3 linked regions of the Homo sapiens genome follow. The protein of the gene in region 3 interacts with the protein of the main gene of each other region in a biochemical or structural test. Each region holds a gene or a part of one and is shown on either strand. Other genes may lie near its edges. The genes, in order: DLG3, SNTA1 and GDA.

Region 1 (7,364 bases), on a different chromosome or scaffold from region 3:
GAGTCCATGGTTTTCAATATGTAGTAGCCATGCAAGAAGAGGCAAGGGAAGGGGTCAGAAACACAGGGGTGATTTGGCCAACCCACAGAGATGGCCTCCCAGACAGGACATGTGTGTATCTATTTGTCAAGTGAAAATGTGATTCTGGACATACAAGCAGCACCTGCCTGCTGGCTCCCACTTTCACCTCCAAGAATGGAGAAGCCCTCTTGCCTGTCTCCCCAGGTACCCTGGCACCCCTCCCCCACCTTTCTCTGGCTATGTTGTCCCTTCCCTGACCTCTAGCCTCCTCCTCAGAAGTGGGGAGCTGGAAACCAGGGTGGGGGCTCCTCCACATGTCCTGCTGTGCTTCCCCCGTCCCACCTCCACCCCACACAGCTTTGGCTTCAAGAAGCAGAGAGGAGGAGAGGGAGAGAGGACTAGCTCATCATGCCTCCACCATTTCTGGGCTGGCTCTGCAGCTGTGGGAGTTGGTGGGAGGACTCCAGCTACAGCCTTACCCTGGTCTGTGACCCCAGGAAGAAGAACTGAAGGCTCCTTAGAGACCCGAAACCAACACAGCTGCCTTAAGTACCATGCAACAGACACATAAGCAAAGGGACACCCATGTGGCTCTTGTGTGCATTTGGTGTACCATGTGTGCCCACATGTGACAAGCCATGCCTCAAGCCCAGCCCCAGTGGTACCCAGAGGCTTCCCGTTCCCAGTGGTCCACGCTCTAGCCCCCACCCCTACTCAAGGACCTTGTTCTCAGGGCCAGGAGCCATCCAGGGATCAGCCCTGGCAAAGAAACCTTGGCCAACTGGCCCAGCCTGGGATTGCCACCTGTCTCCCAGCCGGGCAGGACAAGCATAAGAGGGTGTTTGCGAGAGAAAGGCCTCCAGGACAGAGAGGGGGCAAAGGAGAGAGAGGGACTCGCTGGAAAGGGCAAGAGGCCAAGGCAAGGGATGTGGGAAAGCAGTAAGTGTGGACAGACAGAAGGCCAGAACTGAGGGCTCTTCTCCCCAGGAAGTCCCCACCTTTGCCTCTGAGTGAGAGCACATCCTATCCCCAGAGGACAGAGGCAGCCAGAACGGTCACCAGCTTGGGGAAGTCATCACCTGCCCTCGACAGCAAAGCCTCCTCTTCCTCTCTCCCCACCCTAGGAGCTGCAGAGCCGGATAACCAGACAGGCCCTCCGCCTTGCGTGCCAGGGACCTGGCTCTGCCAGCCCAGCCTCCATTTTGCTGCTTCTCCCACAGATGCTCCTTCCATTTTCTAAGCTGGCAGTTTAGGCTGGGAGTGGAAGCCGGAGTTGTGCCCAGCACCCAGGGGCTCCCAAGCTGTGCCAAGTCAGGGCTGGGGGGCTAAGCCCTCTCACATCTGGAGGTACCCAAGGGGGACATGCCCCACTGGGGCCAGTCTCTGCACCAGGGCAGCTGCCCCTTGCCGGCTCCAGGCACCATGCCTGCTCTAGAGCGAGGAGGCTTGCTTCAGTTCCTTCAAATCTCCCCCCGCCCCCCGCCACCCCACCCCGGCACACACACTACAGAGCTGCTTGGACAAAAGAGTCCGTCCTTCTCAGCAGCCTCTCAGCCTTGCTTGGGACATGTCTCTCGCCTCCTTCCTCTCCCCTCCCTTGCCTGTCAAGCGCCTCTCACCAGAGACAACACATACAAACACACACTCACACACACACACCAGGCACACGCGTGCACACTCTTGCAGCCACATGCTCACACACATATACATGTAGCCACACACACAAACACAGCCATCCCTGCAGCCTCCTCTACAGAGACCTCTCCACATTCAGAGTGACATCTCCACACATCCATGTGCACATTCACACACAAAGGGACTGGGACGGAGAGGGACTCATGGCATCAAGGGATGAAGCTCAGCGAGCCGGGCACATGGGCTCCTCCACACGGATTCACGGCAGCTCCATTGCCTTCCTCCACACACCCCAACATACATACACACACATATGTCCCCCCTACGCAGAGCACCATGCCCCCTCCCCTCCCCTCCGGTGGAGACACACACCACACACAGCCCCCGCAGAACCTCCCGCCCCCTGCCAGACACAGAGACATTGCCAAACCCCCACACTGAGACAAACCCAATTCCCCCACACAGGAAAATGTGCCCCTCCGCCATGCCCTTACCCCCTGACACACGGCTCCTCCCAGTCTTCTAATGGAGACCCCCAAACAGACACACACAGGGAACCACACATTTCCCACCGCCTCTCTTTGCCCAGCTGCAATGCTAGGGCTCGGGGTCCACAGGCTTGGAGCCCCAGCGACCCCTACTGCATCCCAGGCCTCTAGGCCCCCACTCTCCAGCCCTCCTGGGTTGCCCCACCGCTCCCCCCTCCGCTGGTCCATACCTGCTCATACCAGTCCCGGTTGGTACAGGTGCACTCTGGCCACCAGCTGGGGCCGCTGCCGTTGAGTTTGGGGGTGCTCTTGCCCGGGACTGGCTTAGGAGGCACCGGCCCCACATCCCGGCCGGTGGGGATGAGCTTGGCCTTGGTGCGAGGGGTGGGGGTGGCCCCCGCCTGCGAGGGCAAGGTCTGCGAGCTGTAGCCCCCATAACCCGCGCTGGCGCCGTTGCCCCCACCTGGCCCGTAAGGGTCGGGGACTTGCCAGTCGCCGTAGCCCGGAGGCTCGAGGCGCCGCAGGGCGGCCAGGCGGGTCACCTCATAGCACTCAGGGCACTTACAGCAGTGCTGGTGCTTGTGCATGGCACTGCCCCCCGCGGCTCGGACCCCCCAGCCCACGCCGGATTCCACGCCGCCGCCACCGCCGCCACCACCGCCGCCGCCGCCGCCGGGCTCCCTGGCACACTCACACTGCTCGGACCAAGAAGGGGGGGGCACCCGTGGGGGCGCCCGGGCTGAGCGGGGCCTGGGGCCGGGCGGGCGTCCCGGGGCCTCGGCCCCCACGCTGCCCCGCACCCACGGCTCCCCCTCCAGCACTGGCGGCTCCGTGTCGCCCGTCGTGGCTTCTGGGCCGAGGCCCAGCGGCAAAGAAGAAGCGGGAGCTCAAGCAGAGAATGGGTGCTGTGAGGACCGCTTCTGCTCTGGTCCCCAGGATGGATCTGAGTGGAGTCAAGAGCATCTCTCCCTGGCTCCCTTCTCAGTTGATTCCAGCCAATCAGCGCGCAGAGGCAGGCAGCGGCAGCGGCAGCGGCGGCGGCAGGAATGCTAAACAGCGGCTACTTAAAGGAACAGAGGCAGCGGCGCCCCCAGGCTCAGCCCCAGCTCCCCCAATCTCTAGGGAACTGTTGGCTCTAAGGGCGGGGGCAGAGGACGTGGGCCACCAGAAAGCTCAGGCACCCGATCTTGTGCCCTTATATCGCCAGTTTTAGCCTGTCCTCTGCCCACTCCACCCCACCCCACTTCCAAGAGGGAGTTGCAGGGAGATGTTCAATGGGTCCCCAGGCTTGCTCTGAGCTGGGGCCACCAGAAGTAAAGACGAGGTAGCAGGATGGACAGAAAGGACGTTGGAGCAGGGTGAGGGAGGTGCTTTCTCTTACAGGGGACCAAAGAAGAAGGCAGCATATGAGGCCCGCTGTCCTGTCAATGCCTCCTACACAAGACTATTGTTCTCTCAGTCTCTAGGCCCTGAAATTACTGTGACCTCACACTTGACCTTCTACCATCACCAGTAAAGAACTCAACCCTAGAACAGGGATTAACAGAAAGCTCTAAGTCCTTGTCCCTGGCCCACAAACCCCTATCTCCTCCACTCCACCCCTGCATGGTTATGATGGGGGAAGGAACTTCAGGATATCAAGATGAAAGTCCAGGACAGGTGAAAAGGTAAGAAGGGATTTGAAGAGAGAGAAACCCTTCTATGGGTCTGGAATAGAGCTTAGGAATACTTGTCCAAGGACATCTCCTTACCCTCTCCTGGCTCAGCTTGTCGGGGGAATGGAGGAAGGATGACATACAAGAAAGACTATCTTTTTTGCAGTTCTTGTTTTGTTTTTAGCTACCAATTATTGGGTCTTTACAAAGTCCTAAGTGCATAACACGCAAACCCAAATCCTACCAAGCTGATGCTATTATTATCTTCATTTTACCAATGAGAAATTGAGGCTCAAAGATGTTAACACAGCTAGGTAACACAGCTGGAAGTGACAGAATCAGGATGCAAATCCTGATTATTTGACTCCAGAGTCCACGCTGTGAACCACTCTAGTACGACAGGTCTATTCTAAGTTCTCCTGCAGAATTTACATCTCAGTTCAATTCAGCAAATATTCATTGAGCACCTGCTCTGTGCAAGACCTTGACCTAGGTATTAGGGATACAGAGGTTCTTTTTTTTTTTTTTTTTTTTTTTTGAGATGGATTCTCATTCTGTCACCCAGGCTGGAGTGCAGTGGCGTGATCTCAGCTCACTGCAACCTCAGCTTCCCAGGTTCAAACGATTCTCCTGCCTCTCAGTCTCCCTAGTAGCTAGGACTACAGGCTCCTGCCACCACGCCCGGCTAATTTTTGTATTTTCTTAGTAGAGATGGGGTTTCATCACGTTGGCCAGGCTGGTCTCGAACTCCCGACGTCAAGTGATCCACCCACCTTGGCCTCCCAAAGTGCTGGGATTGCAGGTGTGATCCACTGTGCCCGGCCCTCAGAGATTCATTCTTAATTCAACAAATATGCGTGGAACACTTGCTGTGTGCCAGACACTGTTGTAGGATTTGGGGATATAGCAGGAAACAAAATAAAACAGAACAAACAGAACAAATCCCTGCCCTTGGGGAGCTTACCTCCTAGTGAGAGGACACAGACAAAAATAAACACAATAAATAAGTGAATTATGTAGTACAGTAGGTCCTCATTTAACATCATTGGTAGGTCCTTGGCAACTGGGACTAAGTGAAACAACGTATAACAAAACCAATTTTACCACAGGCTAATTAATATAAACAAGAGCTAAGTTCCTACAGCATATTTCTGGTCACAAAACATCACCCAGCTTCCAAATAAAGACCCAAAACACTTCTGATATTGAACATTGAAATAAATATGAGCTATGCATACATATAGAAAGATTAATGAAAACAAGTAAATAATTACCTAACCTTTGGTGAACCAGTGAGTGACAGCAGTGGAAGTGGTGGTGGGTTGAATCAAGGAATAAATGTATGCAAAGCGAAAATTGTAAGGAGCACCTCCCTACCACCATGCAGTTCAAAAGCAAACAATCACGAATATGGTGAGCTCGATGAGCACTTTCTTACCTCATAGTTTATTGTGCATTTGTATGATTATCAACTACTTGACAAATTTTTATTTTACAGTACTTTGTATCCATCCATCCATCCATCCATCCATCCATTCATTCATTTTTCAATCTGCTTATTTCAGTTCAGGGTCAAGGGTGGCCACAGCCTATCACAGCAGCTCAGGGTACAGGGCAGGAACCAATCCTGGACAGGATGCCATTCCATCACAGGGTGCGCTCACATACACACCCACACTCACTCACACTGGGACAATTTAGACACGCCAATTCACCTAACGTGCACTGGGATGTGGGAGGAAGCGCAGTACCCTGGAATACCCGAGAAAACCCACACATACATGGGGAGAGTGTGCAAACTCCACACAGACAGTGGCTCTGGCCAGGAATCGTTTTAGTTGTTTTTTTTTCCCCCTCATCAATGTTAAAACAAAATGATGTTGAAGAAAACAACATTATTCAGCATATACACCTGCTGTGTATATGGTGATAAGTGCCATGGAAAAAAATAAAAAGTAGAGCACAGTAAGATGGATTGGGAATGGTAGGGGAGGATACCAAGTTGTGATTTTTTTTTCAAGTTTTTTGCCCCCACAGTTTAATATGAAAGTTTTCAAACATACAGAAAAATTCAAAGAATTTTACAGTGAACATCCAATTACCCACTGCCTAGGATTCTCATTAACATTTTGCTATGCTTGCTTTATCATATATCTATCCTCCACATATCCTCTCCAACAGTTTTAAAAATGAAAATTTACAAACATACAAAAATATTGGAAGAGTAGTACAATGGACACCACTGTATGCCTTCCTTATCAAGTCGACAATTTGACTTGTTTTGATTGTTATATTTGCTCTGTCTATGTATCTATGTATCTATCCATCTATCTATATTTTTTAAAGAGTAGGTCTTGCTCACTCACTCAGGTTAGAGTGCAGTGGCGTGATCATGGCTCACTGCAACCTCAAACTCCCGGGCTCAAGCAATCCTCCCACCTCAGCCTCACAAGTGGCTGGGACCACAGGTGTGTGCCACCATGCCCAGTTAATGCTCTATCTATCTATCTATCTATCTATCTATCTATCTATCCCTTTTTCTGAACCATTTACATGTAAGTTTCATTACATGTAAATGGTTCCATTATTCATCTGTAAGTTTTGATAACTTCCTTTAGCCATTCTTTGTCTGCTGGCAACAAATTATCTTAGCTTTCCTTTGTCTGAGAATGTCTTGATTTCCCCCTCATTCCTGAAGGATATTTTCACCAGATATAGCATGCTGGAGTGCAGTGGTGTGACCATAGTTCACTGCAGCCTTGAAACTCCTGGCCTCAAAGTGATCCTCCTGCCTCAGTCTCCCAAGCAGGCTCCTCAGTAGGTGGGACTATAGGCGCACACCACTCCTGGTTAATTTTTTTATTTTTAGTAGAGACGAGGTCTCATTATGTTGCCCAGGCTGGTCTCAAACTCCTGGCCTTGGGTTATCCTCCCACCTTGGCCTCCCAAAGTATTGGAATTACAGGTGTTAGCCACTGTACCTGGCCACATTTGAATTCCTTTTCCTATGTAGGTAAGGTGTTGTTTCTCTCTTGCTGCTTTCAAGTTTCCCATCTTCAGTTTTCAGAAGTTTGATTATGATGTGCCTTGGGGTGAATTTGAGTTTATCCTATTTGGGGTTTGTTCAACCTCTTGAACCTGTTCATTTATGTCTTTTGCCAAATTTTCAGCCATTATTTCTTGAGTAATTTTTTTTAGCCCCATGCTCTTTCTCTTCTTCTTCCACATCTCCAATTATGTGAATGTTAAGTCCTTCGTTATAGTCCCAAGCATCCCTGAGGCTCTGTTCATTTTTTTTTCTTTGAGACTCTGTTTCATTTTGTCACCCAAGCTAGAATGTAGTGGCACAATCACAGCTTACTGCAGCCCCGATCTCCCAAGCTCAGGTGATCCTCCCACCTCAGCCCCCTGAGTAGCTGGGACTACAGGTGTGCATCACCACATCCAGCTAATTTTTGTATTTTTAATAGAGACAGGGTTTCGCCATGTTGCCCAAGCTGGTCTTGAACTCCTGGGCTCAAGTGATCTGCCCACCTCAGCCTCCCAAAGTGCTGGGATTACAGGC
Region 2 (5,418 bases), on a different chromosome or scaffold from region 3:
AATGAATAGAACAAAGCAGAAGCAACAGTGTAAGGCTTCCAAGACCGGGTCATAAGAGGCACTGTTTGTGGCTTCCTCCTTGCCCTCTCTTCTGTCTCACTGTGGGGAAAGCCAACTGCCATATCATGAGAAAACTCAAGCAGCAGCTCTAGGGTTAGCCCTACATGGTGAGGAACTGAGACCTCCTACCCACAGCCATGTGCATGAGCAGTATTGGAATGGATCCTCCAGCCCCAGTCAAGCCTTCAGATGACTGCAGCCCTAGCCGACAACTTGACTGCAACCTCATGAGCGACCCTGAGACAAGAACAGCCCAGCTTAGCCCCTCTCAAATTTCTGACCCACAGAACCTAAGAGATAATGAATATTTGTCATTTTAAGCTGCAAATTTTGGATAATTTGTCACACAACAATAGATAACCAATACACTGTCTTTGGCCCATGTAGTAAAGGTCTGTTCTTCTCCAGGGAAAGGTGCCCTAGTCCTTGGTCTGGTCCATCTTGGGACTGCAGGGGCCACCCCAGGACCCAAAGGCCAAGGCACAGACCACATACACTGGGCCGGGCTGCCTGTGTGCTCACAGGCTGTTTATTTATCCAAGAGTAAGGAGGAGAGAGACAGGATGAAGAGAAAAACCAGACTCCCCACGGTGGCAGGGCTGAGGGGAAAAACAAACAGAAAATCTCCTCTTCTTTCTCTTGCTGCTGACCCCAGGGTACTCCAGCTTCAGATGGGACCTCTGGGGGTGGCTTAGGGGCCTCGAGGAGGCCCGGCAGCTCAGCTGTTGGCTGGGGTCAGGATCCGCACAGGGGCAGGTCCCAGACTCGGAATGGCTTCTGTGTACACAAAATATCTCTCTGCAAAAGGCACTGGTGGAGGGGGGCAGCAGGAAGGCCACCCCATCACAGGCAGAGTCCACTCTGTCCTGCGTCTGGGTCCTGGGCCCCAAGACCAATCCAGTCTCCCTCAGGGTTGGGGTTTCGGAGGCCCTTGTTCCTCTCCTCTCCCTTCCCTCAGCCCAGGGGTGAGCAGGCAGTCGGTGGAGGCCCAGCTCAGGCCATGTCATGGACACCCCTCTTCAGGGCTAGTGCATCCGGCGACTTCTAGGCCAACAGCCCGAGGCGGGTGACTTTGGCCGACAGGAAGGAGTGGATGATGAAGACTATGGTTTTGGGACACGAGTGCAGGTCCAGCTGCTGGAGGGTGGATGGAGAGAAGAGTCAGGGCCCTGGCCAGCCTGGCCTCCGAGAGTGCACACCCCCTCCTCCCCAGGGTGCAGAGGCAGCCCCTCACTCACGATCTCGCCTTCAGCACCTCCAAAATCCAGGAAAAGGAGACTGGCACCGTCATCTGAAGACATCTGCAGCTTCTCGAAGGGCTGTCGCAGGAGCACAGCTCGGGCTGCACCTGGCTCAGCCGCCCACAGTGTGAAGCCCTTGTCGATGTGCACAGACAGGCTGCAGGGACGCCCATTCCACGTGCAGGCTGCAGGGAGGGCACATAGGTACAGGCACAGCTGGCACCTCAGAGACTACACCCCAACCTCCAACCCCCACCGCAGCTTACAAAGTGGGGCCTGAATGCCTCCAGGGATGGGAGGCTCACTGTTTGTCGTGGCACCAGTACACCCACCCTGCAGAGAGTCATCACCCCCACCCTCAGAGGACCTACACCCACTTCCAGTCCCACTTCCAGCAGCACAAGTAGAAAGGGGGAGCTTAAAATGTGCCATGGACAGGAGGCTCACTGCTGATAAAGGCATCATCAGATCTACCAAGCACCGCCCTTGGAGACCTGCAGAGTTACCCGGCTAAATTTAAATTTCAGATAAACAATGACTAATTTGGGCATACTTCTGTGAAAAAAGTATTCATTGTTAACCTGAAATTCAAATGAGGCTGGGTGTCCTGTATTTATTTCCTCTGGCAACCCTACCCCAAGTGCCATCTCTCACATCCTCACCAGCAGATTGACAAAACTGGGGCAAGAAAACCCCAGGGAGAAGAGTCTCTGCCTGCTAGGGCACCTGCACATCCAAAACAGAGGGCCCAAACCCAACTTCCTTTTTTTTTTGGAGAAACAGTCTCACTCTGTTACCCAGGCTGGAGTGCAGTGGGCGCAATCTCGGCTCACCACAACCTCCATCTCCCGGGTTCAAGTGATTCTCGTGCCTCAGCTTCCTGCGTAGCTGGGACTACAGGCACCTAGTACCATGCCCGGCTAATTTTTGTATTATTATTTTTTTTTTTTGAGACAGTCTTGCTCTGTCGCCCAGGCTGGAGTGCAGTGGCACAATCTGGGCCCACTACAACCTCCACCTCCCAGATTCAAACAATTCTGCCTCAGCCTCCCGAGTAGCTAGGACTACAGGCGCCCACCACCATGCCCGGCTAATTTTTGTATTTTTAGTAGAGACAGGGTTTCACCATTTTGGCCAGGCTGGTCTCAAACTGCTGACCTCAAGTGATCCACCCGCCTCAGCCTCCCAAAGTGCTGCGATTACAGGCGTGAGCCACCGCACCTGGCCAATTTTTGTATTATTAGTAGAGACAGGGTTTTGCCATGTTTGCCAGACTGGTCTCAAACTTCTGACCTCAGGTGATCCACCCACCTTGACCTCCAAACCCCATTTTCTATCCCCTCCTGAAGTGCCCTAAAGAAGGAAGCTTGAATGCCCCTGGGGATAAGAGGCTTATTACCAGAGGGACACTCCCAGATCCTCCCAGCACACCTGTAGACACCTCCTGCACACCCTCGGCGGCCCGGTGACAGCCATCCACAAGCTGGCGGGTCCAGGCAGCCAGCTCCTGCGGTGACTCCACGCTGAACAGGTGAGTGTCCACACCGTGACGCGTGCCCGTGCGCAGGGCAAAAGAGAGCTCTGCATCGTAGGGCACTGAGCCCTTGGAGGGGCCTGAGTGCACCAGTCTGGGGGTTGGGGGCAGAGGGCTGAGCATGAGGCCTCAGGCCGGAGGCAAATAGTTCTGGGCAAAGGGGCCAGTGACCTGGGAAGAAACCCTGTAAATCCTTTACCACCTAACAGGACAGGACTTGCCAGGGGGCACTGATTGACTCAGCAGGAGACATCTCCTGCCACCCTCCCCGTCACTCCCTTGGCTCTGGCTATACTGGTGTCATCACACACACCTAGCACATGCCTGCCTCAGCACCTTTGCATATGCTCTTCCCTCTGCCTATACATGCTTCCCTGATTATCTGCACGGCTCACTCCCTCACTTCCTTCAGATGTTAGTTTAAATGTCACCTCCTCTGAGAAGCCTTCCCTGACCTCCCAGTCCAAAATAGCACCCTTGTCACTCACTAGCCTTACTTTTTAATCATGGTACCAGAAATTATACTTTTTATTATTTGTTTTCGTTGGTTTTTGACTGTCTTTTTCACTAGAATGTCAACTAGGTTAGAAATTTTGATCTTGTGTTCACCACTGTATTCCCAGTAACTAAAACCATGCCTGCCCACAGTAGGTGCTCAGTAAACTTTTGTTGCCTAACTTGAATCACTTGATTAGGCAGACAGTCCAGGACCTAGTTATCCCTAGTAGCCAGCAGGCTCCTGACACACGGGCCAGAGCCAGCCTGAGGTAAGGAGACATGGGGGACAAGGACTTCAGACCCCTGCAGCTTGACTCTCACTTGCTGTGTGGCCTTGGTAAGCCAACTGCCCCTCTCTGGGGCAGAAAGTTCTGCCCCATATCCCTCTTTGTTCCTCCCTCCACCCACTCTTTCTCCTATAGCTCAGTTCCCCCCGCCACAGACTGCTGCTGACACCCGCCTTCGACTTTCCAGCCCTGAGCTGCAGACCCTCGAGTCCCCAGGCTTCCTATCCAAGCTCCCTCTCCATCCCACACACACTCTGGACTTAACTCAGCATCTTGCTCCAGCCTCCTCCCTTTCCACCCCCACCCCCAGTCCCACGCTCACCCAGACACAAGCTCCAAACCTCCTGTTCATTCCGGACCCCTCCTTCACCCGCCCCATCTGGCAAGCACGGAGCCCTGTTAATTTTACACCCATGTGGTTTCCAATGCCAATGCTGCCTTTCTTCCCCATCTGCTCCTGCCACCCACCTCCACCTCCCCCAGCCACCATCATCTCTCCTGCATGACTGCAGCACCTCCCCACTTCCATCCTGCACTCTCCGCTGCATTCTCCACGTGGCAGCCACAGGGATTCTCTTAAAGCAACCAGAGCACCTCGCTCCCCAGCTTAAACCCTTCAACACTACCAAACTCTTAAGCTAAAGCTAACATTCCTTAATCAGGCAATAGAAGCTCTTCAAGATCAGGCCCTGCCAACTCCCTTCTCTCCATTTCCTGCATGAATTCTGGTTATCACAAACTCATAGCTCCATGAACATGCTATAGCCCTTCATGCCTCTGTACTTTTGACCATGATGTTCTCTCTGCATGGGATGCTCTTTCACCCTTTCTTAAACAGAAAACTTCTACTCATCCATCAAAGTCCAGCTCAAATGTCACCTCCTCCCTGAAGCCTTCCTCTACTACCCCAACAGAGTTAAGTGGCTCCTACAAACCCTGCACTGTAATGGCTGTTCCTGGGTCTGTCTCCCCAGCCAGACAAGGTTCTCTCTGGAGGCAGAAACTGTTGGGGTCAGCTCTGTGCCCTCTGAACCATGCAGCACAAGGCATAAGTGTCAGCGAATGAGTGGCTAATGGGGACCTTATATCCTTTTGTTCCAAGCACCCATTTTACAGATGAGGAAACTGAGGCCCAGACAGGGCAGAGACTTGCTTCAGGTCACCTGGGGAATAGCTGAGGGTGGACAGGGCTGGAGTTCCCAGCTTCTGGGGCCCTGCTGGAGCATCTCCTGGCAAGTTCTGGGGGAGACATACTGCCCCTGCCTGTGGGTACCTGGTGGCGATGAGTGGGGCAGTACGGGCTGGCCGGCTCAGGGCCTCGCGGGTCTCGGGGAGAGACAAGTAGAGGAGCAGTTCCTTTTCAGTTAGCAGGGCCAGGGTGGGGGCTGTGCCCCCACTGGGCAGCTGCAGAGAACAAAACAGCAGTGAGGATGGGTGGGGGAAGAGAGGGCAGAGGGCCAGGGCAGGGTGAGGTGGCCAGGGGCACTGGGAACAGGGCCAGCTCCAAAGGAGCGGAAGAGAGAGAGGGATAGGTCCCAGGCCCAGCAGGTACCTGCTCAGTTAGCCAGCCAATCTGCTTGATGTCCTGGCTCCCAGCTGTGCTGGTGGCTGCCAACAGTGCCTGCAGCTCATCCTTGACCCGCGGCGTCAGAGTATTGACCTGGGCTTGGATGGCAGTCGCCCACGACCTCGCACTAGCCTCATCCTTGGCCCTCAGGAAGAGGGTGTCTTGACCATCTGCCGAGCAGATCTCCAGATACCTGCAGGCACAAATGGGTGGAGACAAGGACCTGACCAT
Region 3 (7,500 bases):
ATCATCACTGGCCATCAGAGAAATGCAAATCAAAACCACAATGAGATATCAGCTCACACCAGTTAGAATGGCAATCATTAGAGTCTATATTCTTAAAAGCTACATGCTACTTGAGCAGAAAGTATAACTCTGTATTTTGCTTTATACCAAAAAGTTGGCTAGATAATTTCTTTTAATTAACCTGCTTTTGAATGAGCTTTAATTTAATGTATTAAGAGCAGTTAGTCATTGGCATTCTCTGGGCCTAAACGAAGTTATACAAAATAAGGAATAAAGTTTAAAAGCGAGACCAGAAGGACAGAGTAAGCTTTGTGCCCTCTCGCTGAGATTCTACCCCAGATCTAAACTTGCAATGGAGAAATAAGCTCCTGATACTTCACACAGCTTGTCCCATCACAGAAACTATGTGTTACAGTTATTCAAAATGTAATCCACCCGCTGCTATAATCCACCCGCTACCTGCGTCTGAATCTCCTGGGATGCTTGTTGGAATGCCACTTTCTGGGGCCTACCCCAGGTCTATAGATTCAGAGTCTCTGAGGATGATGCCCAGAAATCAGCATATTATCAAGCACCCCTAGATATTTCTGATTCATTGCAAGGTTTGAGCTCCTAAAAATTTAGGAGTAAAAATTTACAGATCATTGGCCGGCGCGGTGGCTCACGCCTGTAATCCCAGCACTTTGGGAGGCCGAGGCAGGGGGATCACGAGGTCAGGAGATCAAGACCATCCTGTTAACACATTGAAACCCCAACTCTACTTAAAATACAAAAAAATCAGTGGGGCGTGGTGGCGCCTGTAGTCCCAGCTACTCGGGAGGCTGAGGCAGGAGAATGGCATGAACCCGGGAGGCAGAGCTTGCAGTGAGCCAAGATCAAGCCACTACACTCCAGCCTGGGTGACAGAGCGAGACTCCATCTCAAAAAAAAACAAACAAAAAAAAACCAAAAAAAAAATTACAGATCATAATAATTCAACATATTTCTGTATTCCAAAGGCGTATTATTTTCTTTTTTGAACCTTGAAATGTTTAAATAAATAATATATTTATCCCAGCAACTCTAAAAGTAAGATACTCTCCATTTTGAAATGGGGGATGTCAAGTTTTGAAATATGTATGGCATGCTCTCTCTTTAAACACAGCCAGGTATCAACTGCCTTGCACCTAGGAGGAGAGGAGAGCAACAGTTAGCAATCCACTGGTTCAGGAGCTCTGTACCATACATTCCAGCCACTGACTAACTCACCTTTGTATTCAATTCCTAAGTCATTTTGTCTTGTGGGGGAAGGGCATGTTTTCTAAATTTATAACTTCAGTATGATTTTTAGTGAGGAATAGACTCCCTGACTCAACTACTAATTGTGTGTTTGGGAAACTCTTTTATTCTTCTTCTGTACAAGCACCAGAAAAGGTATTTTTATTACTTCCTTTTCTTATTCCTCTCCACTGGTAAAACCAGTTGCCTGTTACCCTACCAATTACAATTCTGGATATGGGAAATTAATTTTTAAAAAAGAAACCCAAGAGTTGAACAGCTTCTTGTGATTAAAATAACACCTCTAATCTTACACCAGTTTAGCAATCTCCGTTCCTTTGCTTCCTGGGACTTGCCCCAAACCTGAGTTCCCTGAAACTTGAGGACCAAGTCCCCAAGCATGGGTTCATCAGTCTCAGGGTTTACCGGAATCTCCCTGGGAGAGCTCTGAGAGTTTTATCACCTTGGAAACACAACAGCAGGCTCCCTGAACGTGCATAGAAAGAGTATTTTTTAAAGCACCATGAGAAAACAGTGTTTAGTTACCCCCAAATGTAAGAGTCACGATTCAAAACTGTCACCGACTCGGTAGCATCTTAGTCAAGAATAGTATCTTCAACTTGACAAATCACAAGTATGTGTACTTTTGCTAACCAAACCAGTAGTTGGAAAACAGCTCAAAAAATCCCATCTCCATATTTATTTTATCATTTTTTTGTTCTAAAAAATGGAATGGCTTCACTTATCAAACTTGCCAGGCCATGGCTGATATAGTCACTATATGTGTGTATGGAACAGTAAATAGTAGACATCAAGTTACCTGTGTCATTTGTAGAAATCCTGATTTTGGAAAAGGAAGTGTAAAAGATACATTCAAAGAAGACATTTTGAACCTTAAAATGGAACTGCTTGCTTTGATGCAAATGGCTATGGTGTGTGTGTGTGTGTGCGTGCGTGTGTGTGTGTGTGTGTACGCGTGTGTGTATAAGAGAGAGAGAGGAAGGAAAAGAGATGGATGAATTATTTCTTTCGGACCATCCCTTCTAGTATTACAAGTTGTGGAACCTTCATCGTTAGTATATTATCTCTGTTGAATGATAGGGTGAATGTAATCAGTTCTATTTATTCTATGTTCTGGACACGCTAAACAACATCAATCAAATGACCCCCTCCTCTTATTTCTTTCACAATAAATTCAACCACATTTATGGAGAGCCTCCTGTGCCAGGCACAGTGCTAGGTGTTGGAAACAAAGATGATTTAAGCAAGATTGAAGATTATTGCCGGTATCTTAGGATTGGAACGGGGGGCGGGGGAGCGGGGGGTGACATCCTTGCTCCCGGCTCTACCGCAGCCCGGACTGCTGTCGAGCCAGTTGTGGCGTTAGCACGCCACTGCTCCCGACTTCTGGGAACTCCCCAGCCAGCCCACGAACCTAGCGCCAGGGTTCTCTCTGCGTTGCCCAAGAGCCAAAGACTCAAGTTCAACTCCGGAGCCGCGGCGCTCACTGCGCACCGAGCGAACCCCGGGCTACGCGAAGCACCGCGCCAGGTTCCTTGCACCTATCCTCCCGCCCGTCGGAGTGCGCTCGACCCCGCGCCTGCTTACTTTGCCGCTGTCGCTCACGCCGAGGAGGTGATCCCGCAGCACCTCCATGGGGCAGGTCCAGGTGGAGTGGACGAACGTCCCTCGGAAGATGTGCGCCAGGGGCGGCATCTGAGCGGCACACATGTCAGCGGCGGAGCGCAGCGCGGGTCTGCTGGTCGAGGAGGGCGCACGCGGCGGAGACGCAGCGGGACTCTCTGCAGCTGCGGGCGGCTGCCGGGCGGACACAGGCTCCGGCCTTGTCCTGCCCCCGCTTACCCGGGCGGTTGCCGGTACCCTGCAGGCCGCGCCCAGGGGCTGGCTCCCTACCTCCTCAATGCCAATAGGATTTTTCTCCCGCGAGTTGGCTCCGCGCTCCCGTGGGGTGTGGTCTTTCTCTCCACCCTTGCGTTAGTTTTGGTTGTGTTAACTCTTTGAGTTATCAAGATCAACCACAGCTGAGGCTCAGAAGATCAGCTTCCTCCACCTTCTATGAGTTGTGTCAGCCTGGCTCCTCTGACCCTTCAACTCCTAGGATCACTTACTTCTTCAACCTGTAGCACTCAGGTCCTGTACTTGCATTAGTTCAGGCACAGGTGAAAGGTCAGCTGGGGCTGCCTACCTTATGACCAGTTTCATTTTTAGTTTATGTAGACTGCAGAATTAGTATTGGTCCTCACCTGGAAGGTTCTGGAAGCATGTCTTACCGAACATCTCTGGGGACCCCTAAACTGGGTGTCATTGTGGACGCCAAGGTTCCTCTCTTCACCTTGAGGCTAATGTTTTTGGTTCTTGTGTTTGTCCGCAAACAATTCCAATACCAATTTTTCTCGTGTAAAATGAATGAATCTCTTTTATTTACTTCCAGTTGTACAAAGGGAGAAAATTAAGTTCTCAAGTCAAATAGGCAGCAATGGTACCATGGGTGCTGAATTGGGAATCAAGAGACTGTGGACAAGACACGTGGGCCTCAGTGTGCTTATCATCCCCACTTATGAAAATGGAGCTTGGACTGGGTCATAACTAGGGTCAGCGTTCCCACCCTACACAATGACCACAGGGTCCTTCACTAAGTTCCTCCATGAAACCCAGCTGGCTTCCATTCAGGGCCCTCTAACGTGCTGTTCCTTCTGCCCCTAATCCCTCTTGTGGCGCTTTACTTGGCAGCTCTTCTCACCACTGATTTGTCTCAAATGTCAGGCTCTTCGGAGTCACCTTTCCTGACCACCAAGTGGCACCGGACTCCCAGCAGTTTCTACTCCACTAATCCATCTTGTTTCTGCCATTGCATTTATTGTGTCCATTCTTCTTTATTTTGTGTTTTTTAGTTTACTCCTGTTTCCCTCTCACCAATACACACACACACACACACACACACACACACACACACACACACATACACACACCAATAACAGAAGCACCACAGGAGCAGGGAATGTGTCTTATGCCTAGAACAATGCCGGTGTTCCATACATGTTTATTGAATAAATGAATGGATGGTTTTTCTGTGAGCAGAGCCATAACCTGAGACAAATAACTATTTTGACAACTACATAAAGGGTGAGGGTTTCATTGCAGTGTGTGAGCAGTTTTTCTCTGAATTGCTGCTTTTAAGACACAGGGCTGGCTTATAGAAATGATTCGTTCCCTTCTCAGTTCCTTCAGCTCCCCCATAACCAATGTCTAAGGTGACCAACAAATCCTGGTTTACCAGGCACTTTCCTGGTTTTAGCACTGAAAGGCCGTTCAGGAAAACCGTCAGAACCATGCACACAGATGGTTGATCACCCTACCAGGGATCCAGAATTAGGAATCTCTGCAGCTGAGGTCATTACACTTGTCCCTGCTCCTTGTCACTTTCTCCTGATTCTGCCAACTGCACTCCCTCCTGGCAGTACCGACAGCCAGCACACTGAAAACATTCCCTTGTATACACAAAAACCTCAGACAGAAAGGTGAAGAAAATGGCTTTTGAGATAGGATTCAATCAGATGTTTCCAACAGATGTATTACTTTCCTAAAACAGATACGGTTAATAATTTTTTTGATGATTAGGTTTTAATGAAAACCTAAATGTCAAAAAAAAAAAATAGAGACTAGTTTTATGAACTAGAATATATCTACTTGATAGAACATTATACAGTTATTAAAAACAACAGGAGAAATATATAGCCACAATGTTAAGCTTTCAAAAATGGCTTCTGGCTGGGCACGATGGCTCACGCCTGTAATCCCAACACTTTGGGAGGCCGAGGCGGGTGGATCACGAGGTCGAGATTGAGACTATCCTGGCCAACATGGTGAAACCCCATCTCTACTAAAAATACAAAAATTAGCTGGGTGTGGTGATGCGTGCCTGTAGTCCCAGCTACTCAGGAGGGTGAGGCAGGAAAATTGCTTGAACCCCGGAGGCGGAGGTTGCAGTGAGCTGAGATCACGCCACTGCATTCCAGCCTGGTGACAGACCAAGACTCGGTCTCAAAAAAACAAAACAAAACAAACAAACAAAAAACAGCTTCTATGCTACGATGAAAACCATGAAAAGCTATAAGCATATTTGCTGGAATTGAAAAGGTACATCAAACAATGTGTGTTGTTCTGTTGAGATAATGGAATTGCTAGGTAGAGAATTTTGTTTTGATTTTTTTAATGTTGTTACTATGTGGTTTATAGGATGAATAATCATTATGATGCTTTTAAAGAAATTAATCGTCTTAAGCAGAAGGATTGGCCATGAACCTCCAGGTGACATGGCATTAGTGCTCCTCAGGTAAATTTTAGCTCTTTTGAGCAATGCATAGTTCCACTTCCATTCCCAGTCAAGTTGTAGGTACCTGGGCCCAGGATCCAGAAGCCCTGGGTGCTATACTGCCAGGCAGCATGGCTCAGCCACATGCCAGAAGTCTTGGCTTCCCAGCCAGGCATGGTGGCTCATGACTGTAATCCCAGCACTTTGGGAGGCTGAGGAGGGCGGATCACTTGAGGTGAGGAGTTCGAGACCAGCCTAGTCAACATGGTGAAACCCCGTCTCTACCAAAAATATAAAAAATTATCCAAGTGTGGTGGCGCACACCTGTAGTCCCAGCTACTAGGGAGGCTGAAGCAGGAGAATCGCTTGAACCCGGGAGGCAGAGATTGCAGTGAGCCAGGATTGAACCACTGCACTCCAGCGTGGGCAACAGGGTGAGACTCCACTCTCGGAGGTGGCAACTCCTTTAAATTGCTGGTCCTCCTGCAATTTTGACTCCCATTCTGGTATCCCCAGGGAAATATTCTCCTGGCTACAGAGGTTTGGAGGAAAGAGGGAGTACAGAGCTTTCATATTCACCCTCAAAATACAGCCCAAGCATCATTAGTGCTCCACCCCCACATATCACTTCCTTCAGAAAAAAAGAGCCCCGCCTTGGCATGGAATATTCCCTGGCTGCTTCTTCAGGCTTGGCTACCTCCACTCTCCCATATGCTATGAATCCGCTTTGCTCACACTCTTCTCTCTGCCTGTGGTGCCCTTTTACCACCTTACACCATGTCTGCCTCATTGTCCCACCCACTCCCCCAACCCCCAACCCCCCCTCACCTTTATCCAGGATATCTTTACATTTCTGCTCTAGAGTGTTAAGTGTTCCTCCCCTGAGTTTGTGGGTGTGCTGTAATTGTTCCATTACTCATCTATACCCCAAAGAAGATGTGTTTTTCTGAAGGACCATGTCCTCTTTCTTTCTGTGTATCCATCCCCTTAACACAGTCCCTGGTCACTAGGAGGTGCTCAATAGATTTATATGAATATTGAATTGCAGGAGATGGCTCTAGTGCCTATATTTTAGTCATAAAAATTAAGAGGCTATAGTGGGTGTCTGCTAATGGTGAACAATTCATTGGGACTAGAACTTAAGGATGAGTTTTATTTCATTTATTTAGTTTTCCAACATTTTATGAGAATGTTCAGACATAGAGAAAAATTTTAAAGCTTCATTTCTTACAATCTCAATTTTCTCTATTTCAGATGGAGCCAAGTAGCCCCCAAATTCCCCAACTACTGGGGTGGGATCATCGTGTTCTAAACCTCCAATTGCCTGAGGCCAAAACCTAGACCATAGCATGATTAGCTTTGACATTTTGCTCATCTCATGAATGTAATTATACCTGTAGCTTAGTCAGTCAGTCCTTTTTGCTAGATAGAACCTGACTGTTTGAAAAGGCTTTCTCCTCTATTATCTAATTTTGAGCCTCTCAACAACCCTATAAAATAGGAAGAGGATGTATTTTAAACATTCCACAGATGGGGAAACTGGGGTTCAGGGAGGTTGGCTTGCCTGTGCAGTTAATATAGGATGGACTTGGATCTTGAGTCCAGTTGTTCTCATACATTGTCTCATCACAGTAAACTCCCAGGAATTGTTCATTCAGTTTTGCCATGACTCACTTGGCCACTGCACTGTGGGCTGTCATCTACAACTTTCACATTGTACATGGTTTTCCAACAGTTGCTGGTGACACTCAGATCTAGCCTGCAGTAAAACTAAAGGGAATAATGGGCCTTGAGAAAAACAGGAATCCAATCAGCGTAGGTCAGTAGAATGGGCTATCGAAAATAACTCAGGTTTTCATGAGGTACAGAGAGTGCAGGGAAGCAGTTTAAATGAGAGGCCACTTTTCCTC

Evidence for each region.
Region 1: the proteins of GDA (region 3) and DLG3 form a complex in vitro, tested with the Homo sapiens proteins (2 studies listed by BioGRID and IntAct, with this or other methods).
Region 2: the proteins of GDA (region 3) and SNTA1 interact in a test that uses a peptide from one of them, tested with the Homo sapiens proteins (2 studies listed by BioGRID and IntAct).

The regions. Positions count from the first base shown.
Region 1 is NC_000023.11:70,440,569-70,447,932, reverse strand, and holds the start of DLG3 (disks large homolog 3), read right to left. Parts: upstream 3,099-7,364; 5' UTR 2,732-3,098; coding exon 2,375-2,731; intron 1-2,374. UniProt on the Homo sapiens protein: Required for learning most likely through its role in synaptic plasticity following NMDA receptor signaling.
Region 2 is NC_000020.11:33,407,403-33,412,820, forward strand, and holds the end of SNTA1 (alpha-1-syntrophin), read right to left. Parts: exon of another isoform or gene 5,381-5,418; coding exon 5,173-5,380; exon of another isoform or gene 5,025-5,172; coding exon 4,894-5,024; coding exon of another isoform or gene 4,784-4,893; exon of another isoform or gene 2,930-4,783; coding exon 2,733-2,929; coding exon of another isoform or gene 2,701-2,732; exon of another isoform or gene 2,651-2,700; intron 1,487-2,650; coding exon 1,299-1,486; intron 1,198-1,298; coding exon 1,105-1,197; 3' UTR 555-1,104; downstream 1-554. UniProt on the Homo sapiens protein: Adapter protein that binds to and probably organizes the subcellular localization of a variety of membrane proteins. May link various receptors to the actin cytoskeleton and the extracellular matrix via the dystrophin glycoprotein complex.
Region 3 is NC_000009.12:72,145,048-72,152,547, reverse strand, and holds the start of GDA (guanine deaminase), read right to left. Parts: upstream 3,109-7,500; 5' UTR 2,989-3,108; coding exon 2,866-2,988; intron 1-2,865. UniProt on the Homo sapiens protein: Catalyzes the hydrolytic deamination of guanine, producing xanthine and ammonia.